Linked DNA regions of Homo sapiens. The protein of the gene in region 6 interacts with the protein of the main gene of each other region in a pairwise test. Each region holds a gene or a part of one and is shown on either strand. Other genes may lie near its edges.

The links.
Region 1: the proteins of AGXT (region 6) and BATF3 interact in binary tests that used the Homo sapiens proteins (3 or more experiments, as listed by UniProt).
Region 2: the proteins of AGXT (region 6) and FOSB interact in binary tests that used the Homo sapiens proteins (3 or more experiments, as listed by UniProt).
Region 3: the proteins of AGXT (region 6) and RFX6 interact in binary tests that used the Homo sapiens proteins (3 or more experiments, as listed by UniProt).
Region 4: the proteins of AGXT (region 6) and FNTB interact in binary tests that used the Homo sapiens proteins (3 or more experiments, as listed by UniProt).
Region 5: the proteins of AGXT (region 6) and PRDM6 interact in binary tests that used the Homo sapiens proteins (3 or more experiments, as listed by UniProt).
Region 7: the proteins of AGXT (region 6) and TTC19 interact in binary tests that used the Homo sapiens proteins (3 or more experiments, as listed by UniProt).

The regions. Positions count from the first base shown.
Region 1 is NC_000001.11:212,697,041-212,701,183, reverse strand, and holds the start of BATF3 (basic leucine zipper transcriptional factor ATF-like 3), read left to right. Parts: upstream 1-1,343; 5' UTR 1,344-1,421; coding exon 1,422-1,511; intron 1,512-4,118; coding exon 4,119-4,143. UniProt on the Homo sapiens protein: AP-1 family transcription factor that controls the differentiation of CD8(+) thymic conventional dendritic cells in the immune system.
Region 2 is NC_000019.10:45,473,338-45,475,679, forward strand, and holds the end of FOSB (protein FosB), read left to right. Parts: 3' UTR 1-1,842; downstream 1,843-2,342. UniProt on the Homo sapiens protein: Heterodimerizes with proteins of the JUN family to form an AP-1 transcription factor complex, thereby enhancing their DNA binding activity to gene promoters containing an AP-1 consensus sequence 5'-TGA[GC]TCA-3' and enhancing their transcriptional activity.
Region 3 is NC_000006.12:116,875,996-116,880,041, forward strand, and holds the start of RFX6 (DNA-binding protein RFX6), read left to right. Parts: upstream 1-1,246; 5' UTR 1,247-1,280; coding exon 1,281-1,503; intron 1,504-1,800; coding exon 1,801-1,957; intron 1,958-1,967; exon of another isoform or gene 1,968-2,215; coding exon of another isoform or gene 2,216-2,217; intron 2,218-4,046. UniProt on the Homo sapiens protein: Transcription factor required to direct islet cell differentiation during endocrine pancreas development. Specifically required for the differentiation of 4 of the 5 islet cell types and for the production of insulin.
Region 4 is NC_000014.9:65,028,395-65,031,894, reverse strand, and holds part of FNTB (protein farnesyltransferase subunit beta), read right to left. Parts: intron 1-3,500. UniProt on the Homo sapiens protein: Essential subunit of the farnesyltransferase complex. Catalyzes the transfer of a farnesyl moiety from farnesyl diphosphate to a cysteine at the fourth position from the C-terminus of several proteins having the C-terminal sequence Cys-aliphatic-aliphatic-X.
Region 5 is NC_000005.10:123,192,504-123,194,766, reverse strand, and holds the end of PRDM6 (putative histone-lysine N-methyltransferase PRDM6), read right to left. Parts: 3' UTR 501-2,263; downstream 1-500. UniProt on the Homo sapiens protein: Putative histone methyltransferase that acts as a transcriptional repressor of smooth muscle gene expression.
Region 6 is NC_000002.12:240,875,324-240,878,823, reverse strand, and holds part of AGXT (alanine--glyoxylate aminotransferase), read right to left. Parts: intron 2,890-3,500; coding exon 2,820-2,889; intron 1,288-2,819; coding exon 1,192-1,287; intron 803-1,191; coding exon 674-802; intron 111-673; coding exon 3-110; 3' UTR 1-2. UniProt on the Homo sapiens protein: Peroxisomal aminotransferase that catalyzes the transamination of glyoxylate to glycine and contributes to the glyoxylate detoxification.
Region 7 is NC_000017.11:16,006,324-16,009,823, reverse strand, and holds part of TTC19 (tetratricopeptide repeat protein 19, mitochondrial isoform 1 precursor), read right to left. Parts: intron 3,351-3,500; coding exon 3,256-3,350; intron 847-3,255; coding exon of another isoform or gene 818-846; exon of another isoform or gene 760-817; intron 1-759. UniProt on the Homo sapiens protein: Required for the preservation of the structural and functional integrity of mitochondrial respiratory complex III by allowing the physiological turnover of the Rieske protein UQCRFS1.

The DNA.
Region 1 (4,143 bases), on a different chromosome or scaffold from region 6:
CTCAGTTGGCCGAAGCTTCTGATCACACAGACAAGAATCTCCGCTCGCTTTCCCGCTGGCCTCCAGGCAGCCAAGTTCACTCAAGCTCTCTCAAAGCTTTTGCAAGAGTGGGTCTTAAATCCTGGCGGGGGGCACGTGCACTCATTTAAGACTTAAAAAGGAATCGGAAATGACTGTCCCCATGCCCACTGCTGCCCACAAACCTGAAGACCCAAGCGACCACACTTGGTAGGCACTTCTGCCCTTCTGGTCTGGTTCCCACCCGCCCATCCCGAATCGCGGTTATCTTTCCCGGTGCTCACAGCATGCAGACCACAGCCTGTGGCCGCTAGTGTTTCCTTCGCTAGGACCACGGGTAATTGTCTTGGCTTCGCATCTTTTGACTGGCAGGCAGGTGGACAGGGACTTGCCCTACCTCAACCCGGTCCCCAGCTTGGCACGAGCAGATAAATCTTGAAAAAGAAAAATGATCTGGGCCGTTTAACCGTGGCATGGCGGGTCCAGATCCCCAAACCTGTCACTAGTGACGTCCCACGTGGCAGATTCGCTCTCAGGGAAGCCCGTCACCGTTTTTGTCCGGGACATCCTCCCCATGCCCACCCTCCGCTCCGGGAATTCACCCTCGGGGCCGCCCCGCCTCGTTCCCTCCCACAGCCCGGCGGACCCGAGACGGGAAGGGCAGGCACTCCCTGCAGAGTCCCTGGGGCGCCCGTGGCTCGGGGTGCGCGGTGGGACTCGGTGAAGCCGGCGTCTTCACCCCAGAGCCGCGGCTTCGGGGCCGCTGGAGGAGCGAGAGTGGCGCCCGGATGACTGATCGCCGCGGAGAAAGTCCCCCGGGACTGTGACCCCCGCGCCGGGGGGCGGACGCAGGGCGTGGCTGAGGCGCAGGAAGATGCCGCGATGGGACCGGGAAAAAACACCGACCCCAAAACACCCACTGTGTTTCTCAACCTGAGTTCCCCGGCAGCCGCCGAAGGACCCCAAAGGCTGCATGGCGCCCCCCTGGTCCCCACCCCCCCGGGCGTCGCCTCGCGTGGGTGGGCTTCGCGTTCCCTCCGGGGTTTCAGAGCCACCACGTGACTTCCACGAAGCGCGGGGCGCCGGCGGAAAGCCGCGGCAGGGGTGGGATTTGGGACCCCGAGGTGCGGAGAGAGGGCGGGCAGAGGAGGAAACGAGGCGGGGGTGGGAGAAGGAGGGCGGGGCAGACGTGGGACGGGAAGGACGGCTGCCGGGACTGGCGCGCGGGGACACTGGGCCGACGCGTGGAGTAGCGGGGAGAGCGGGAAGCCTGAGGGGGCGGGGCCGGCGCGAGGCCGTGGGTGCGGCACGAGGATGCCGGCGGCGGGACAGCGCCCGTAGGCAGCCCCACGGGCAGGGCGCGCGGGCGGGGCGGGGCGGGCCGGGCCAGAGGAGCGCCCGGCATGTCGCAAGGGCTCCCGGCCGCCGGCAGCGTCCTGCAGAGGAGCGTCGCGGCGCCCGGGAACCAGCCGCAGCCGCAGCCGCAGCAGCAGGTAGAGGGCGAGAGGCTCAGGGAGGGCCGTGGGGTGCGGGGACCGGCGCGCCGCGGGGGGCGAGGAGGTGGGTGCTGGAGTTCCGTGGTGGTGACTGCGGAGGTGCAGAGGTGGCGGGTGCGGCCGGAGACAAGCAGAGGTAGGGGCGTAGGGATGTTGGGGAATGGGGGCGATCCAGGGACCCTGTCGTGCGCACAGTGTCCGCGGCTCCTGGAATGGCTCCTGAGCCAGCTCCTGCGCCCTCTGGGGGAAGAAGCCCGAGGGCGCCGACGCCTGGCTGGGCCGGGCATGGCCGGTGCTCCCCGGCACGTGGGCTCCGCACTGCCCTGAGGGCCGCCCCATCCTGGCGCAGCCAGCGACTGCCACCCCACCACCCGCGCCTGTAGCCCCTCCAGGATTCCCCCGGGTGGGGGGGGTGCTGCCGCGGGAATGGAGAACGCCGGACTAGTCAGCCTGGGCGGAGGGAACCCACAAAGGGCCGACTCCGCCCCCAGCTGGTGGAAACCCTTTGCCCCTTCCCAGTTCGCTGTCCCCTAGCAACGTTTACAGCGGCGCAGTCAGGAAGGAGACCAGGTTGGCCACAGGGACGGCCGTCTGGAAACTTTGCCTGGGTCTTGGCCACCTGCCTTACGACGAAGACTGGGTCTTTTCATCCTTACTCCCCACCTTCCCAATTCAGCGCCCGGCCCATGTCATCAGGTGTCGCTGGAGTGTCACAGAGATCTGAGTTTGGGCCTGGGCTTTGCCACACACAGGCTGAGCAGCCTTGAGCAATTTGTTTAACCTCTCGGACCGTCCATTTCCCCATCTGTAAAATGAATATAGTAACATCAACCTCTCAGGATTTTTGAGACTGAATCAGATATGGTTAATAACATAATACTATCTCTAACTTTCGCTCACCTCTTTCTGTCTTGATTAAATGTTTCTGCTGGGTTGGCAGGTGTGATCATGGTGATGAGTCCAGTTTAGAGTCAGCTCCCCGAGGGCAGTATGCAGGCTGCTTTCTTGTGCTAGTGACTTTTTGATTACAGAGAGCAAAGAGGCATGAGAAGCACTATGCAGAATACATTTTTTTTTAAAGTAGCAACTTCAACAAAGGCAGGTAACTTCTTGAGGGCATACTGTATGCTGGGAGCTTTAGGACAAAATCTCATTTCATCGCATCCCAATCCTAAGCATTAGGCTGTTAGCACCAAGTCTGCAGAGTTCACTGACCCTTTGTTTAGGGCTTGTATCCCCAGTGTCTAGAACAGTGTCTGGCACATGGTAGGTGCTCAGTTAATACATATTGAAAGAATGAATGAATTATGCTTACAATAAATGAGAAAACTGAAAATTTAGAGAATTTAAACCATTTACACAAGACCATGTTGACACTAAGAGACAAAACTAGGATCTGTGTGATTCTAAAGCTAAAGAGCTGTCTTCTAACCACATGTTCCCCTGTAATGTTCTGGTTTTGTTTATCAAGACTTCTTTGCCTCTCTAGAAGACTGTATTATCATACTTTGTTCCCTTAAGCTTCTATTTGCTATGTATGTTATTTATTCCTCTCCTTTTTATGCCTTTATATTCTTGCATATCTGAAACTTCTTACCTGCAGTAACTTGGGAAGATGTGTGTCTTATGTGGAATACAAGATGAGATCAAATGATAACTGAAAATATCCTTTTTTGTGTTATTAATATTTGCATTCCGTGAATATTAATAACTGAGTAGTTTTCCTTGTTTGTACCTCTTGGCTCTTAAACTCTGTAAGTGTGGTATTTTTCCCGCTTGGTGGTGTCTTCTCATGGGGTTCTAGAAAGCAAATACTGCTCTCCTTTTTCATGTTTTCTATAGCTGATTGAAGTGTTTTTACCATGGTCAGTGCATTTTTCCGCCTGCCTGTTTCATGATCACTATTGAGGGATTTGACTGAATTTGGTTAAATCTTACATATAGCTAACAGCTTTCAAGACACATAAAAAATTTGCTGACTTCTGAAACAAAATGTCAGCCAAGCATTGTTCAAATGAGTACACTGTCAGTGGGGTTTAAGATCATTTGGTGTGTTGGTAGAGTTATGTGGCTGCAATTAGTTGTAAGTGTAATCATGATTTGCATGCAGTATCAAAAGTACCTTTCATGTGTGGTGGTATAAGGACTGGCAAACAGCAAGTTCCAGATAGCAGATCTCTCCACCGCCCCCCACCCCCACCCAGCTTTCCAGTCTCAGATGGACGACATTGACACCACAGCTCTTCCAGGCACACGCCCTGTGGGCTAGAGGTTTATGAACGTTGATTTGGAGACCAACAGACCTGAGTTCCACTTCCCACTCACCCACTTAGTGGCTGTAATACCTGGAGCAAGGTCCTTAACCTCTCTGAGTTTCTTATTCCTCATCTTTTAAACGGCGGTCACACCACACACTTCACACACTCACATGGTGAGTGCTCCTGGGCAAGGGGCTGTTGTGAGCCCATTGGTATAGCAACTAGTGGTGCTGTCTACTGCAAAGCAAATGATGAAGCTCAGTGAACAACGCTGAGTGATGAGACAGGGCAGAAAAGGGTAAGGCGAGGGGCCACGACATCACACCCACCCAGTGTTTTTCCCCAGAGCCCTGAGGATGATGACAGGAAGG
Region 2 (2,342 bases), on a different chromosome or scaffold from region 6:
GGCGGGTGACGCCCACCTTCGGGCAGTCCTGTGTGAGGATTAAGGGACGGGGGTGGGAGGTAGGCTGTGGGGTGGGCTGGAGTCCTCTCCAGAGAGGCTCAACAAGGAAAAATGCCACTCCCTACCCAATGTCTCCCACACCCACCCTTTTTTTGGGGTGCCTAGGTTGGTTTCCCCTGCACTCCCGACCTTAGCTTATTGATCCCACATTTCCATGGTGTGAGATCCTCTTTACTCTGGGCAGAAGTGAGCCCCCCCCTTAAAGGGAATTCGATGCCCCCCTAGAATAATCTCATCCCCCCACCCGACTTCTTTTGAAATGTGAACGTCCTTCCTTGACTGTCTAGCCACTCCCTCCCAGAAAAACTGGCTCTGATTGGAATTTCTGGCCTCCTAAGGCTCCCCACCCCGAAATCAGCCCCCAGCCTTGTTTCTGATGACAGTGTTATCCCAAGACCCTGCCCCCTGCCAGCCGACCCTCCTGGCCTTCCTCGTTGGGCCGCTCTGATTTCAGGCAGCAGGGGCTGCTGTGATGCCGTCCTGCTGGAGTGATTTATACTGTGAAATGAGTTGGCCAGATTGTGGGGTGCAGCTGGGTGGGGCAGCACACCTCTGGGGGGATAATGTCCCCACTCCCGAAAGCCTTTCCTCGGTCTCCCTTCCGTCCATCCCCCTTCTTCCTCCCCTCAACAGTGAGTTAGACTCAAGGGGGTGACAGAACCGAGAAGGGGGTGACAGTCCTCCATCCACGTGGCCTCTCTCTCTCTCCTCAGGACCCTCAGCCCTGGCCTTTTTCTTTAAGGTCCCCCGACCAATCCCCAGCCTAGGACGCCAACTTCTCCCACCCCTTGGCCCCTCACATCCTCTCCAGGAAGGGAGTGAGGGGCTGTGACATTTTTCCGGAGAAGATTTCAGAGCTGAGGCTTTGGTACCCCCAAACCCCCAATATTTTTGGACTGGCAGACTCAAGGGGCTGGAATCTCATGATTCCATGCCCGAGTCCGCCCATCCCTGACCATGGTTTTGGCTCTCCCACCCCGCCGTTCCCTGCGCTTCATCTCATGAGGATTTCTTTATGAGGCAAATTTATATTTTTTAATATCGGGGGGTGGACCACGCCGCCCTCCATCCGTGCTGCATGAAAAACATTCCACGTGCCCCTTGTCGCGCGTCTCCCATCCTGATCCCAGACCCATTCCTTAGCTATTTATCCCTTTCCTGGTTTCCGAAAGGCAATTATATCTATTATGTATAAGTAAATATATTATATATGGATGTGTGTGTGTGCGTGCGCGTGAGTGTGTGAGCGCTTCTGCAGCCTCGGCCTAGGTCACGTTGGCCCTCAAAGCGAGCCGTTGAATTGGAAACTGCTTCTAGAAACTCTGGCTCAGCCTGTCTCGGGCTGACCCTTTTCTGATCGTCTCGGCCCCTCTGATTGTTCCCGATGGTCTCTCTCCCTCTGTCTTTTCTCCTCCGCCTGTGTCCATCTGACCGTTTTCACTTGTCTCCTTTCTGACTGTCCCTGCCAATGCTCCAGCTGTCGTCTGACTCTGGGTTCGTTGGGGACATGAGATTTTATTTTTTGTGAGTGAGACTGAGGGATCGTAGATTTTTACAATCTGTATCTTTGACAATTCTGGGTGCGAGTGTGAGAGTGTGAGCAGGGCTTGCTCCTGCCAACCACAATTCAATGAATCCCCGACCCCCCTACCCCATGCTGTACTTGTGGTTCTCTTTTTGTATTTTGCATCTGACCCCGGGGGGCTGGGACAGATTGGCAATGGGCCGTCCCCTCTCCCCTTGGTTCTGCACTGTTGCCAATAAAAAGCTCTTAAAAACGCATTCGCCAGGCTACAGTGTTTATTTCCTCCTAACACCCATTGCCTGGCTTCCTTTTAGTAAGAGAGGATGAGGTTAGATTGTCGAAGGACTACACACACACAGAGATCATACACCCATGCACACACACACACAGACACACACCTATGCAGGAACTCCTTCTAGTCAATGGGTCTACAGCAGGATAAAAGGAAGGCAGACAGTCAGGAGGACTTCCTGTACTCGCAGGCAGTGCCTCCTACTAGAAAAAGTAAGTGGCTACAGCTGGGCGCAGTGGCTTGCGCCTGTAATCCCAGCATTTTGGGAGGCCAAGATGGGCGGATCACTTGAGGTCAGGAGTTTGAGACCAGCCTTGCCAAGATGGTGAAACCCTGTCTCTACAAAAAATACAAAAATTAGCCTGGTGTGGTGGTGCACACCTGTAATCCCAGGCTACTTGAGAGGTTGAGGCAGGAGAATCACTTTAACTTAGGAGGCAGAGGTTGCAGTGACACAAGATTGCA
Region 3 (4,046 bases), on a different chromosome or scaffold from region 6:
GTGGTACTAAAAATGGGGAGATTCAAATCCACTCATAATTTTAGCTGCTTTTGCTGTATTACTTAGACTGTATCGCTCCTTCCCATAATTCACCCTTCAGCCACCCACCACCTTGGATCCCATTTTGTTTGTTCTATGTTAAATTTCAATGTAATGTAGTTTAATATTGTCAAAGTCGAAGGCTGATTTCTCTCTCTAATGCTGCAAGAGAAGATGACATGCTGTAGGTTGTGATGAGGCAATGTGATCCAAAGCAGAATCCTTGCTTTTGTTGGAGAGCACTGGACATATAAAGACACTGGGCGTATTTGTCAAAAGAACAGAAGGTGGAAGGAAAGGAAGATGATCTGGCAGTCAGGTAACACCAATCCCAAGTCTCCACTGACCGCTCCCGTCTAAAGAGAGCACAGATTATAGTTTGCCCCCATGAGATTGCCATTTTGGGTTGGAAGATGGTCGCAATTTCATTTTTCACTTAAGCAAACGTCCGTTGCCGTACTGCTAGGTATGAGATGAGTAATCGTCAGGGACGCGTTTAAATTACAAAATAATGGTAAATGGGAGAGAAAGAATCTTTTCTCGGGGTTGAGGCCAGATCCTCCAGGGCTGGGAGACCCAGGAGTGCGGGCCACTGTGCACCCTCGAGCAAAGCAGTGTGTGACGAGATGGGATCTTCCCTCAAATGCTGAGAAGAGCCCTCGCCAATCCCTCGGAAGGTTCCCAGAATAAAAAGCCCGGTCCCTGCTGTGCAAAGACTGAGCGGTACTCCGGTGTACTTTTTCCCTGTCCCAGGCGTGCAGAGTCCACGCCGCGCGGCCAGGTGCCCCAATAGTGTACCTGAAAGTAGGGATGGGGCCAGTTACAGCTGCACTTTCCCTGCAGAAGACAGTGAGCCTTCCCGGGATCTTTCTGGGAGCTCTGAGTGTGAAAACGGTCCTCCGGCCAGCGCAGGTTGAGAGAACGGGAAGGAGGGGGAAGCTGTGGGCGCCCAGGGCGTGACAGGCGCAGGTGAGAAAGTGAGTTTCGCGGGAGCATCTGCCGGGACCGCAGACAGGTGGAGAAACGCAGTCCCACCGCGGCCCACCGCGGCTCCCGGGCGGCCTGGGCTGTACCTGTGCGCGGCGTCCTTTCTGCGCTGAGCCAGGGCACCCCGGAGCCTGCGGCCTCCTTCCCCGCCCCTGCGGCCCCGGGTCCCAGCCCCGCCCCGCCCCGCCCCGGGCTGGGGCTCCGCTGGGGAACCGGCCGAGCGGCGCGCGCGGAGGTGTCCGGCGGCCAGGAGGATGGCCAAGGTCCCGGAGCTGGAAGACACCTTCCTGCAGGCGCAGCCTGCGCCCCAACTGTCCCCGGGGATCCAGGAAGACTGCTGTGTGCAGCTCCTGGGCAAGGGCTTGCTAGTCTATCCGGAAGAAACAGTGTACCTGGCGGCCGAAGGGCAGCCCGGGGGCGAGCAGGGCGGCGGGGAGAAAGGCGAAGACCCGGAGCTGCCGGGGGCAGTGAAATCAGGTGAGTGCTCTGCCGCATCCGGAGCTGGGAAGGGGACGGGGACGTATTCTAAGAAGGGCACCCAATAATAATAATGCATCCCGAACAAACATAAGGCAGATATAGAATGTTCTGTCCAAATCTTTGTATTTCCTCAGTAAAATGTCAAGTAGAGACCTGACATTTTGCATAGCCCCCCTTTCCTCCCCTCCGCCCCCACCCCAGTAGGCTACTCCTTTGAAGTTAAGGTACACTTAAAGGCGACTTAGTTGATTTTATATTCTATTTTTCTTTATCATCCCTTCAACTGGCAATCAGAAATGCACTTAAACAATGGTAACTTTTCCTCTGAAGAAGAGGACGCCGACAACCACGACAGCAAAACCAAAGCAGCGGATCAATACCTGTCTCAGAAGAAAACCATCACGCAGATTGTGAAGGATAAAAAGAAGCAGACACAGCTCACGCTGCAGTGGTGAGACTCGCCCGCAGGGTACACTGAAGCACCTGTTGACGTTTTAACAGCCAGCGTCTTCAGGATCTTTGATTTTCACAATTTACTTCTTCCTCAAACTTTTTGGGAAAGTTTAAAAAACCAATTAGAATTTAACCCAGAATTTTTTTCACTGAATTTTTAGTATAGAGACTTATACAAGTACTGGTGAAGGATTTGCAATACAAATGAAAACCACATTACGTTGTTCCTTATTGACTAAAACCATATTTTCTTCAAATGTAAGCATTAATGAACGTTTTTATGACTTACTGGCTTAATATGCAATCAGTTCAGTCCTTACATATTTGTTGTTTGATAGTTTTTGAGATTATAAAATATGATTCTTAAAAACAACTTAAAATGAGGAAGGATCTTAACACTGCCTTTATTCAAAAGAGGGCAAATTAAAAATAGTGTATACTCCATAAGATGAACTGTGTTTGAGGTAGAAGACATAGAAAAAATCGGTTAAGATATCTATACTAACTTAAATAGAAGTTCAACTATTTTTATACCATCTATCATATATGATTTATAATAATAAAATATTACAAATTGGATTTTGTGGAAAATCTTTTAAAACCAAGAATTTATCAGTAGGATTTCCACATAGAGTGAACATTTTGTAATATCTATCTAAAAGAAAGACGGCTCTAAAGTAAAAGCATTATATTAAACTTTCCTACGTAGTGGGAAGAAATAGGAGCATAAATTTCCTCACAAATTCCAAGTAAAAAACAAACTAATAAAAAGGACTATATATTTACTGATTAGTTACATAACCTAATTTTGTGTAAAGTATGATCTAAGGAGCCTTAGAAAAATACAAGATAAAGAACTAGTAAATTTTATTTTTATTATTTATTTAAATATTAAATTACAATTTACATATAGTAGTTTTTTGTGATTATATGCTTGAACCCTTTCAAAATATTTGAAATATAAGCCAAATATTCATCTAAAGTTGGAGTTTAACTATTGAAGTTGATGTCGTGGTTACTAGTTAAGAATATACTAGAGCAGTTAAGTAATTGAGTTAAATATCTGGGATATTTAGGATACAACTATTTGCAGCAGGATAACTGGGGCAAAAGTGTTTTGATTTCAGATATATTATTGAGCTGTTTCGAATGATTACTCCATTTTTTCCATTTAAATTGAGTGTGTGGAAATATATGTTTCTTTTATGAATAAATGTATACATAAATATATATAAGTTAAGATCAAAGAAAAAACTTGTACCCCAAATGAACATCATACTTATGTCTAGGATGATTTAATATTTTGAAGACAAAGACAATGCCGACTACAACAGTATCAAAATAGCAAGATGAAATGTGAACATTGTGTACATGTAATTAAAATATAATTTTTAAATAGATAAACTAGAACTGAAAATCAAAGTGAAAAAGCTGGCTGATTAATTCCAGTTTTCACTATCAACTAGTATGTCAACTGATTTTATGTACATATATTGATTTCATATTTTGAAACACTAGATCTTAGTTTTTGGTCTTTTTTTGTTCTTCATTAAAAAAATGAGTGATATTTTACCTGTTCAGGGAATACTTTCTTTAGCCTTTATCTTGTACACATTAGGATATTTTAAATCAAATCTTTGAAGGGTTTCATCCAATTTTAATCTGCAGACTCTATATTGCATCGTTTCTGCATTATAATAAATATTATCTTACTATACATAAAATTGGTATAAGTAAATTTTAGTCAAAATCACCTACTGAACTGTTAGGAAAACTGGGATTGGAATCTAAAAGTTTAATTTCTACATTGCTGTTTAGAAAGTTGTAACACAAATATGTATTTATTACATTTATATAAGTTATGCTTAGTTACAAATTAAATGGAATTACTTCAAATTTTCAAAGGTTATATAGTTATTTTTATAATATAAAGTTGAAGGTATATATGTTATGTTTGGAGATATCTATAGAGAATTACATTATCTTTTAAGTGTATAGGATGTTTTAGATAATTATAGTACTGATGACAGTAGTAAAAAGTATAGGAATAGAAATATATCAGTGTCATTTCAGACTTAAGTAAAATG
Region 4 (3,500 bases), on a different chromosome or scaffold from region 6:
GGCTAGAGTGCAGTGGTATGATCTCAGCTCACTGCAACCTCCGCCTCCTGGGTTCAAGCAATTCTCCTGTATCAGCCTCCCAAGTAGCTGGGATTACAGGCGCATGCCACCATGCCTGGCTTATTTTTCTATTTTTAGTGGAGATGGGGTTTCGCCATGTTGGCTAGGCTGGTTTCAAACTCCTGACCTCAAGCAATCCACCTGCCTTGGCCTCCCAAAGTGCTGGGATTACAGGCATAAGCCACCGCGCCCGGGCTATTTTTTAAAAAAGCATTATTAGGCTGGGCACAGTTGCTCATGCCTGTAATCCCAGCACTTTGGGAGGCTGAGGCAGGTGGATCACGAGGCCAGGAGTTCAAGACCAACCTGACCAATATTGCGAAACCCCGTCTCCACTAAAAACACAAAAATTAGCTGGGCATGGTGGCGTGTGCCCGTAGTCCCAACTACTTGGGAGGCTGAGGCAGGAGAACCACTTGAACCCGGGAGGCGGGGGTTGCAGTGAGCCAAGATCATGCCACTGCATTCCAGCTTGGGCAACAGAGTGAGACTCTGTCTCAAAAAAAAAAACAAACACAAAAAATTATTATACTTGATTTAGGATCATTCTTGCTGTTCCATCCTCCCAGCCCTAATTCTTCTCGGGGCACATTTTATTTCAGCTTCTCCCTCTGTCATGGTATACACACACAGACTGCCTTTCCTTCCCCTCTATGGTTTTTTCAAATACCCGGCACAGGGAAGACAAAAATCATTGGTTTGAATTCTGCTCAAAAATCCTTCTCCTGGCCAGGCATGGTAGCTCATGCCTGTAATCCCAGCACTTTGGGAGGCTAAGGCAGGTGGATTATTTGAGGTCAGGAGTTCGAGACTAGCCTGGCCAACATGGTGAGACCTCGTCTCTACTAAAAATACAAAAATTAGCTGGGCATGGTGGCACACGCCTGTAATCCCAGCTACTTGGGAGACCGAGGCAGGAGAATCGTTTGAACCCCAGAGACAGAGGTTGCAGTGAGCCAAGATCCCACCACTGCGCTCCTGCCTGGGCAACAGAAAGAAACTCCATCTCAAAACAAAACAAACAAAAAGTATATTCCTAAGGGCTCCTAAGAAACATAAAAGAAGGGCCTAGTTTCCATCTTCTTTTTTTTTTTTAAGATAGGATCTCACTTTGTTGCCCAGGCTGCAGTGCAGTGGCGCTATCATGGCTCACTGCAACCTCAAACTCCTGGGCTCAAACTGATCTTGCCTCAGCCTCCTAAGCAGCTGAGGCTACAGATGCATGCCACCACACCTGGCTAATTTTTTAAAAATTTTTTGTAGAGACAGGGTCTTGCTGTGTTACCCAGGTTGGTCTTGAACTCCTGGCCTCAAGTGATTCTCTCATCTCAGTCTCTCAAAGTGTTGAGATTACAGACATGAGCCACTGCCGCTCGGCCCTGGTTTCCATCTTACTCAGTATAGATATAACATGAAGTCAGACTTACTGAGGTATTCCAAAGAAGTCTCTGCAGAAGCTGCATGCATTATGATCCTACCAGCATTTTTAGCAGCCAAAGGCACAGTGGAAGTTTAGTTCCACCAGCAGGCATTGGGAGCACACAAGAGTCACAAGTGCCAATGCCAAATGTGATCATCTACCAGCAGCTAATTTTGAAGATCTGTCTAATTTCCTTGCAATTGTAGGCCTCTTAAAGAGGCTCAGATGCATTTGCTCTTGAATCCTATTGTGACTTGTGAGGTAGGAGGCGACCTATAATACAGTTTGCCTCTCACAAGTGTGAGGACTAAGAAGTGATGACAGAAGACAGGAGTCCCAGGTCTCACGCTGAGATGGGGAGGAAACGTAATACAACCTTTTCATGTATTTCTCCCCCTTTCCCTCCACCCAGTCATCGCAGCTCTCAAATTTGAATTTGTCCACTAACTTTCCATCCTTGCTGCCATCACCCAAATCCAAGCCTTCTTCAACCTGGATCAGTCTTCCTGCTCTCTCTCCCTCCAGCCCTGAAACCAGAGGGCTTTTATTGGAACACTACAGTCCATCACTGCAATTGGGAAACTTCTAAGAAAATACAAATCAGATCACATCACTAAACTCCAGACTCCATAGGAGATTTCAGGGCCTCTGTAGCCTGTTCCCAGCCTGTCCCTCCAGCTCCACTGCTCCCCTGCCCACCAGGCCATCTACACTTCAACACTGAACTTGTCCTTTCTTGAGCAACACATGCTTTCTCACCAAACTTCTGCAAATGCTAGATCCCTGCCTCCACCTTATCCTCACAGAATGATCTAGATTATATAACCTAGAAAGGAGGTCTCCTTTCTTAAGAACTGAGAAAAAATAGTGCTTGCTATGAGTTCACTGTGATTTGATTTTTTACAATACACTGGAACTACAGACCCTTGAGTAGGCTCATCTCTGAAACTATCAGCAGTGTAACAGAGCAGAAAGATCATCCAGAGACTGCTGTCTATCCCAGAAGGGCAGCGAGCTAGTCTCCAGATGTCAAACTCTCCCATCACTGCTGCTTTTCTCCAAGTCAAATCCACCCAAACAAGCACTCCTGAGGACTGGCTGATGCTTCCAGGCAAAGGACAATGAAAGAAATGCCAAGTGAAAAATGATGGAATCGGGGTACTAGAAACCAGGCAAAGCAAGGAAAATGGATGCAATCTGCTAGCTTTTCTCTATCATTCATATCTTTAATCCTTTATGTAAATAGAAAGCACGGGCACGAATGGCAGAGCATCACCCAAAGAGCAAAGGTCAGGGAAGAATATGGCTACAGTGCTTGGCAGGGGAACCAAGCTGCCTTACTGGAGAAGTTTCCTAGCATTTATCTAGAACATATAAATAAAGAGCATAGGGAAAAAAAAAGTGCTGGAATGAATAAGATAGCAAATAATCACAGCTGCAAAAGGTATATGATAAAATACCAAAAGGATCTTGCTATGATTTGTTTGCTTTTGCCTAATAATCTTAGTAGGTTTTTAAAAGCTGCGTTTCAAGACTGTGCATATTTTGGGGGAATAGCAACAGAACAGGAACGAAAATGTAGTGAACACGAGGGAAAAAAACTCTTTTAACATTTTCCTTAAGAAGAATCAACACATACTGATTTACCTCAGTCGTTCTACTGGTTTCACTGGTATACACAGATCCTAATCTAATTTTTTTGGTTGGATTAGACAAGTTAGAGATAGAAGAACATCTTGAACTAAAGGCCTTTGCAGCCTGATTACCTATTATCTGTAATGTATTTTATGCTCCACAATGTTCGTGGTTTTTTCCTCCCCTATACTTTCAAACCAATGGTTAAACCAGATGCTTAAGCCAGACTATTAATCAACTTGTGTAGAAGCAAACCCATTTACACATAGGCAGTAAGACAGCTTTGCTATAGAAACCTCACAAAATGTATTTCTCAACTAAATAATAAGAAAATGGCATAAAATCTCAATAAGCCACTGTCTTAGAGAAATGGCTTATTCAATGA
Region 5 (2,263 bases), on a different chromosome or scaffold from region 6:
TATTCCTACATGCTCACATATTTTTTCTAAGTGAAATTTTATTTTCCAACAGAACAAGAGACAAACAGCTGACTTTGGCTTTCTTTCTGAGAGCCCCCAATCACATACATTCAGAAGAGTCATAGCCCCAGGCCACTCTCCGGGCAAGTGCTTTCTGCTGTGCTCCAAAGCTTATGGGGTTAGAGGTCAAATATCAAGTCCAGCCTGCCACAGATTTGTGGCTGGGTCTCTGCGCACAGTTTCCTTAAGAAGCTGTGCACCTGACTTGGTTGGGCAAATGAGCATGTGAGCACATGAATAAGGAAAACAGTAATCTCAAATGCATCCGAATAAACCTCAGGGCTGAATTTTAACAACCTTCCTGCTTGCTAGGTGTATTTTCTAGCTTATACTTCCCCAACAAGAGTTTGTTGACTGCCTACTACCTAAGCTGCACACTAGAATCAGATGGTGCTTGAAAAATGACTGTGGGACTGGAAAAGACAGAATCCAAGGGAAGATCGAGTCATCATAAAAACGTTTTATTAATCAAATATATTTACATTTCTTGGTCAATGATCTCTAAATGTGTACCTGTTTTTTCATTTAAATACAACTTAATCCTGGTAGATTCCATCACAAGAATACAGCAGCATGCATGATCTCATTGGTCCTTTGCAGTTATTTTTTCATTAAATAATGTGAGTTTAATAAAGTTAGAAAACTTTATTAAGTTTTACCCATTCTTACTGTGGGATAATCATTCTTGTCATATCAGTGGCCCTTACAGCAAACTACACACTCCTTATCACCCACAGTGAGATTCTTCTCATTCTCTTAACTGACTTGTTTAAGCTTTCCAAACTCCAAAAGGCAGATGTGAAACTGGGCATTCACTCTAACCATTTTATTTGGTGGAAAGTTGGAGAGAGACATATTTCTATTCCAGTAGGGAACATTTACAGTCCTAAACTTAAAATAACCACATTAAAGAAATGTATACAATGTCCTAATAGCATCTAAATATCACACTTCTATTAGCATCCTACAGAACTGGATGTCTTCCCCTTGATATAAAAAAAATAATTAACTTGGGACATTAAGTTTCCAAAATAATTTTGCTGATCTGAGCCAAAGTTTTCCTTAATTCGTTAGTCATCACCTTAGCCTCTGCATTTAAACTGGGGGAAGGCTTTTTCATGAAATACTTAGAACTGCTAAGGAGAATAATTTTGCCTCTGGCTTTTGCTATACATTTTCTCCAGGTTGGGAGAAACTAGAGAAGTGTACTAGATTGTTCAGAGAAAGTAAGTCTACAAGTGCTGATTTTGTTAACATTAGACAATGCCCACATGTGGATCAACAGGGACTGTGGGTTGGCAGACTTTTGCTCTAAGATGGCTGCTTTCCCCAACATGTGGCAATCACCTGATACGGCATAATTGCTTTTAAACATGAAAGAGTTGTGCTGTAGAAATAGATCTCCAGCTTGTTAAAGTTTATATCTAGACTGTTTTCAGTTGGGAGTGATGTACCAAAGTGGGAGAAAGGCACCAACAAGGATGTTTTTCAAGGCAGGAAACAGGAGATATCAACCAGGACCCACCATGTTTGACAAGGAAAATATATTTATCATTTCAACAAACAAATGTGCCCATTAGAATCAGAATCTGGAGGAAAGTAGTATACATTGTGGTTTCAATAAACCACGGTAAAGAGTTGTAATAAAGCCAGTTCATGATGAAATTTTGTACACTTACTTTTTGAACAAACCTCACAGTTTCATCTAGATTGTGCCCCAGAACTTGAACTGGTTCCTTGAGTACCTCATGCATGTAACTACACTATCTGTGCCTTTGACAAACCAAACCTATAATGACTCCAGTCTTTCTGCTGCACTGCTTTAAACCAACAGGCTAACAACATAAGCCCATATTCTTAATGCACACAACTGCGTAATGACTCCATTGATGCCTGGAAAGTAACTCACTTAGCATTCAGTCAGAACAAAGAAAGAAAACGAGATTTCACTTAGCCCCGTTGAGGATGTGTTTTTACCTGTCGATAGTGTTCGAACCTTATTCTCTTCTGGCCACCCTCCAACACAACCTGCCCTTCCTGCCTGTTGCCATTTGTCCTAATGTATATCACACTTGAGAGGGTTATTTTTTTTTCTTTCAATGTGGAATTTTAGATTCCTGCTTAGAAAAACAAAAACAATGCCTGACAGCAATGGAATAGTTGAAATTCTGTCCAGCAATGAGATTTGGGCATGACAAAATCA
Region 6 (3,500 bases):
GGTCACAGCTTCTTCTTGGGGCAGTGCTGCAGGGCCGCCCTCAGGGCCTCCGTCACGCGGTCCACATTCTCGCGGGTGGCATTGCAGCCCAGCAGGCCGATCCGCAGCACCTGGGGGGCACAGGGCGGGCTGACGTCAGCCTCCCGCCTGGGACCTGCCTGACCCTGACCGACAGCTGGCCAGAGCCAGGATGGGCTCACCTGAGTGAGGACCACCCACCCAGCGTCCATGAGGGGAGTTGACAGCCCTGTGCAGGTCACAGAGGGGGCCCTTGAGCACCCAGGCCAGGGCAGGCTCTCCTCCCTCTGCACCCGCAGCCACACGGGAGGACAGGGTGGTGCAGTGAAGGTCCCTCCCCACTGCCACTCAGAGACACAGCCAGGCCCAGGCGTGGGGCTTCCGGCCTGGTTCCAGGGTCTGGTCAGAGGGAAGGAAGGATGTTCCGAGTGGAATCATAAAGGCTGCACCTGGTGACCTCAGTGGGCTGGGGTGGGAGCAGGGGCGACAGGATACGCTTTACTGGATACCCCTTGGAGAGTGGGCCCTTCTGGACGCTCCTGCAATCTGGGCTTTCGGATGACCCCGGCCTCCCCTGCACCTGGTGCACAGTCCTGCTCAAGGAGGGGTGGCGGGTTTGGTTTCTGCAAAAGGCCCTCGAGGCGCTCCCTCTCACCTTCCCCGTGGAGGGCCCAAGGCCACCCATGATCTCAATGTCGAAGTGGTCTATGACGTAGCTGACGATGTCTCTCCAGTCATAGCCAGCGGGTACAGCCACAGTGGTGACTGTGGGAAGCCGGAGCGCCTGCAGGAGGGGCCTGGCTCAGTGCGTGGGTGAGAGGCCCTGTACGGGCCTTTGTGACAGCTCTTGGCCTGCACCATCTGCCCCAGCTTCAGGTTCCAGAGGAGCCGGGGGAGAAAGGGCCGGGAGAGAGCAGGGACCCCACCCCTTAGGAGGCGGTGGATGGGCACCTTCCCACTGGGAGATCACAGGCCGTCCTGAGATCCCGCATCAGAGGCCGGGAGCTGTGACTTCGTGGCTCCTGCCGAGACTAATCCCTGGCACCGAGGCCACACCACCGGGCAGCCGCCCCCTCCTTCTCAGGAGCCAGTGTCCCTCTTGAGGGGGCTGGGCAAGAGCCCCTCATCCTTCCCCATGGGTGCAGGGCTGCCCAATGCCAGGGGCCTCCTTACCGGGTCCTTCACGAAGAGCTGCAGCCCCAGTGCCTGCAGGCGCCCATGCAGATACGCCGCGGCCTCGCGGTGCTGGCGCCAGCTGTTCTCCAGGCCCTGTGTGGGAGATGGCGCTGGTGGGCAGTGACATGGGTGGGGTGGGCAGGAAGCCCCGCCCTCTGTGGTGCGGGAGGAAGAACCTGACTCTGCAGGCCTTGGTGCAGGGGAGCCCCTGGAGCCCCCAGTTTGACTTTGCCTGGGGCAGGGCCTGGGACTACCCCAGGGCAGAAGGAAACATCTGGGTCTGGGAGAGACAGAGGAGGGTTCAGAGAGACAGAGGGGAGGTCTGCCTGTGGCCCCTGGGGGAGAAGAGTGGAGAGTGCCTTGCAGGGGGAGGGGACTGGGCAAGGAGGGGAAGGGCTGTTGGGCTACACAGGGCTGGAGTGGATCAGGGCCAGGGCTCAGGGTGCTGGCTCCCAGGCCCCCTCTCCTCTCAGGGCCAGCTCCCCCGACCTGGCATCCTCCGCAGCACTGCTCCTGCCTCAGCTCTGGACAGGTGAGGGGTGGTCTCTCCAGCCCTGGGCCCCTCAGTGCCATTACCTCTGGTCACGGGTCCTCCCGGCCTCCAGCCACCAGCTCTCATGGCCACCCCAGGTGGGTCCCCGGAGCAGCAGCTGCTCTCTACTCTGGCCCTGGCCCGTCTTCTCTGCGCATGTGCCCCTGCAATCTGCACTCTGCCAGGTCCCTGTGCCTCTGCCCTTGACTGTGCCCTGCTGTCTGGTCCTGTTCTCTTCCTTCTCTGCCCAGCTCACACCCCCCACCCACCTTTACGACCCTAGAGCCTTTCCCTGTGTGAGCGCCTGACCCCTCGCCTTCCCCCGCGGGTGCGGGTGGCATTTAGCTTACAGGGGCACCCTGGCACTAACCCAGCCCTAGGCAGTGGCTTTATGAGTGGACCCAGGAGGACAAACGTGGCAGGCACGGCCTTGCAACCTCATGGGAAGCTGGCTGCAGCCCGGGGATCCTTCCTGGACTCTGGACTGGTGGCTGGCAATGGGCCCTGTGGGACACAGGACCCAGATGAAAGTAGGTGGGACTTCCTGTCTCGTGGCCTGCAGAGCTGCTGGGCCTGAGGCCACTCTCAGCCGCCTGTGTCCTGAGAGTGTGGATGTTGCAGTGTCCTGAGAGTGTGGATGTTGCAGTGGCCAAATCAACCCCTGGTCACACCCAAGTGCTCATGCTCAGCTCTTGCCCTGCCATAGGAGCTGGACAAGCCTGCAGGAACTGCCAACCCTCACTTTACATCCACGCCCACCTATCTGTGGGCACATCTCTGGCCCCTTCGGCCTCCCCTTCTCCCAGCCCACCCACTCACTGGGCCTCACTTACTGCTTCACACAGCAATGGAAGGGTTGGGAGCATCCACACCTGCCCCATTGCTGCATCTGTCCCTGGGGCTGTATCCCCCTGGCCCTGCCCGCAGCCAGTGTACCCGGGGCCCTGTCCTCTCTCCCCCACCCCCACTGAGGGCCTCTCTCTGGCAGGCTCCCTTTTCTCTGTGCACCAGGGATGGTTCCTTCTCTGCAGGCCGCGCCCTCGACAATCCAGCCAGTGGCCCTGTCTCCTCCTGTGGAGTGCAGCCCATGCACCTGTTCCGCAATGAGGGCCAGGCTCTCTCTCAGGCTGTACAGGCTGATGACGGGGATTGTGTGATGGTACCTGGAAGACACGAGGGGGCTTGGTCCAGCACCATGGGCAGGGTTGGGGGCAGATGGGGCATTAGCTCTGTCTGCCCCAGCCCCAACAGCACAGGCTCTCTGACCACAGGCCGGTATCCTCCGCAGAGGAGTCCTGTCCGGGTTCAGAACTTTGGACCGGGAAGGCAGCTTCGTCTGCCAGGGAGAGCATGGCTTGTGTAGGGCCCAGCCAGGAGGCAGTGGGTGGCTGCAGGAGCAGAGACACGTGCCACCACCTCCCTGCGGAGCCCCTCAGTCCCAGCGTGCCTGCGAAGCCGGCACTGGCCCTCTGTGCCCACTGGGCTAGGGCACCATTCCTGGCGCCTTGTTCCTGTGTGTAACATAAGGGGCCTTGGGTTTATGGCCAAGGTCGTCTTTTCAGAAGGGGTAAGCTGAGGCCCAGGAGTGGGGAGATGTGGCAGGGCCAGGTCCAAAGTGCCCGAGGGTGTGCTGGGACCTCTGGGGGGACAGTGTTTGTGGAAGCGGCAGTGGGGGCCATGACCCTGCCCAGAGCCTCGGGCCAGTCGAGGAATGGGGGAACCCAGGGTGGGGCATTTGACTGCCTGATGCAGGCGGATTCTGGGGCTCTAGTTG
Region 7 (3,500 bases), on a different chromosome or scaffold from region 6:
AAGTACATATATGTCTACAACATAGGTAACAAAATAATTATCCTAGAGCAAGGTTTTATGTAATTAAGTAATGTAATTTTATGTAATTAAGTAATGTTATCCTAGAATAGAGATAGTTGTGTCAATAAAAAGCACGTAAATTTGATAATGGATTTGCTTTGTGCAAAACTGAATAGGTAGGAATTCCTTTTCTAGAAAAAATAAGATGAAGAATCATGTAACACATTTTCTATACTGTGCAACTAGTAAAATGTAAAAATAATATTTATAATAGAAATTAGCTTGCTCTATCTAACAAGAATTCCTTTGCCTGGAAAAAAAAAGTGTTTTCATAATATGTTACTAAATTGTTAAAACTCAGGTTACAAAGTAGGATATACAGTATCATCCCAAATTTATTTCTTAAAATGTAACCCGAAAAGCCGTAGTAATAAATAAAACAGTAGCTCTTTCTTAATAGTATGATTACAGATGATTTTTACTTAGTGCTTTTCTAAACTTTCTTCAGTGTTTACTGGTATTATTTTTTGAATCAGAAAATATAGCTTTACACTCCTAAGAAACCATAGTCAACACTATAAATGAAAGACAGCAAAGGTGTAAATAGTTCAGAAGTGACTTACTTGACAGCTAGACTTGTTTTTACACCTCTTGTGGATTTCCTCAAAGCACTTCCACACTGCACTGAAACTGGATTTATTTGCTGGTCTTTCTTGGGTCTTTTGTTCTTTCATTCAGTAATTATTGAGCCTCTATTATGTGCCAGGCACTGTTCTAGGCACCGAGGATTTAGCACTGAGTATAATGGATGAAGTCTCTATCCTTCTTTGATATGGAAGACAAAGACTAAAAATTTTTAAACAAAAACATACTTTTAGTGGAGAAACACAAGCACACAACACACACACCTCTACTTTTAAGTGTGATGAAGAAAAGTAAAGGAAAGAGGAGTAGAGCAATAGTAAGGTGGGAAGAGATGATAGTTTTAGTGAAGGGAGCACTCTGAGGAAGTGCTATTTGAGCAGAGACCTGAGTGAAGTACGGGAGTTGGCCAGAGAAAGGTAAGAGAGAACAGTCTAGGTAGGGGGAATATCAAGCAAAGAGGCCTTGAGGTGGCACTAAGCTTGGAATGTGCCAGAATAAGACCAGTGTGGTGAGACTGGAACGAGCAAGGGGAGAGCAGCAGATGGCATGGAAGAGGTGGGTGGGCCCAGGTCATAAGCGCCTTACAGGTCCATGCAGGGATTCTAAATTTATTCTAAAGGTGATACAAAGGTACTGAGGTCTTGAAACAGTGATGGCCTGGACCAAAGCAGTAGGGTAATGGGATGAGACATGGTCAGTATGGATATATTTTGATGGCTGATCCAGTATAACTTGCTGATGGATTAGATATGAGGAATGAGGAAGAAATCATGGACAATTCTTAGGTTCTTGGCCAAAGCAACTAAATGAGTAGTGTGCCATTTACAAATCTGGGGCTGACTGGTGACGAAACAAGTTGTGAGCGGCAAAACTGAGACCTATTTTGGACATGTTAAGTATGAGATGACCATTAGACTTCAAGTCAAGATGTCGGGTGGGCAATCATAATTATAAGTCTGCCATTTGGGGGCAAGTTGGGGCTGAAGGTATAAATCTAATATTTAAAACTATGGAACTAAAAGATATCTCCTAGGTGTTGGGGCAGAGAGAAAAGAGAATAGGGCTGAAAACAGCCCTAAGGCGTGCCAACATTAAGAGGTAGGGAAGTCTATTCACCTCACTAGAGAGACCAGTGAGGCATCCCAGAAGCCAAGTGAAAGTATTTTCAGTAGGAGACAGTGATCCCCTAAGTTAAAGCTGCTGATGAGTAAGTTAAGGATTGAGAAGTAACCATTGGATTTGGTGACTTTGATAAAGGTAGCTTCAGTGGAGTGATGAAAACAAAAAAATTGGTGTACAGTGATCCCTCCTACTCCACAGTTTCATTTTCTGGGGTTTCAGTTATCTGCAGTCAACCAGAGTCCGAAAAATATTAAATGAAAAATTCAAGAAATAATCCGTAAGTTTTTAAATTGCATGCCATTCTGGGTGGCATGAAGAAATCTTACACTGTCACACTCCATCCTGCCCAGGACATGAATCATCTTTGTCCAGTGTACCCAAGTTGTATACGGCAGCTGGCCTCAGTCACTTAGCAGCAGTCTCAGTTATCAGATCAACCCACAATGTTGCAGTACTTGTGCTCAAGCAATCCATATTTTACATAATGGCCCCAAAGTGTGAGAGTGGTGATACTGGCAATTTGAATATGACAAAGAGAAGTCATAAAGTGCTTCCTTTTAATGAAAAGGTGAAAGTTCTCAACTTAGTAAGAAAACAAAAAACAAAAAACAAAAAACTGTATGCTGAGGTTGATAAGATCTACAATAAGAATGAATCTCCTGTCTGTGACACTGTTAACAGTATATAGTTATAATTGTTCTATTAAAAGTTATTGTTGTTAATCTCTTACTGTGCCTAACTTATAAATTAAACTTTATCATAGGTACATATATATAAGAAAAAAACACAGTGTATTAGAAGTCGTTTCAGGCATCTGCTGGGGGTCTTGGAACATATTCCCCATGGATAACGGGGGACTACTCTATGTTCAAGAGAGAGTTAGAAGACCACTAGGTACAGAAGAGTTGACTGCTGTATCCCTACCATCTCGGTAGCTCTTGGTATAGAGTAGGTATTGAATAAATGTCAAATCTGAAAATTCTCAATACTTCAACCCAAATTAAGAAACCCAAAATGGTGGAGAGCTAGAGAGCTTCCTGCTCATCCAGTTCTATTCCTAGCCTCCAGAATGAGTGAGGATGGATTGTAAAAACATGAGCTTTTTTTCTCTTCTTTCTTAATTTGCTGTATATCTAGGGCTAAAACGTAATAAGCATTTTGATTGGTAGCTGAACTAAGAGATACGAGAAACACCTTCTCCTTCTGCTCCCCAATTTTCCTTAAGTTATATGTAACTAAAAGTTAACAAATAAATTATGACCATGTTACCAAGGGGGTTAAAAAAAAAACCACCACCAAAACAGCAGTCAAATATTTTAAATAAAACATCTTATTCCAAAACTTCTGCTGATACCTTAAAGACAGACACTTATTTTGCAAAATAGGTAACTTTCCCTCTTCCCAATTTAGATCTCTTTCCATTTCTCAAAAGTGTAAAGTAAAGCCTTTTGTGGAGAAAAGGCAATGCCCAGATAATGGGTTTCCTACCTGACATAATGTCTTCTGCTAATTCCTTTTCTCTTTCAATTTTTTCCTCTAGAGTTGAAATGCAGAATTCATAGCCAGCAACAGCAAATTCCTGTCTGTAAAGCAAAATCAATAATCAGCCATTTACCTTTTCTTCTTTTTTTTTTCTTCCTTCTGTTGAGATGGAGTTTCGCTCTTGTTGCCCAGGCTGGAGTGCAATGGCGTGACCTCGGCTCAGAGCAACCTCCACCTCCGGGGTTCAAGCG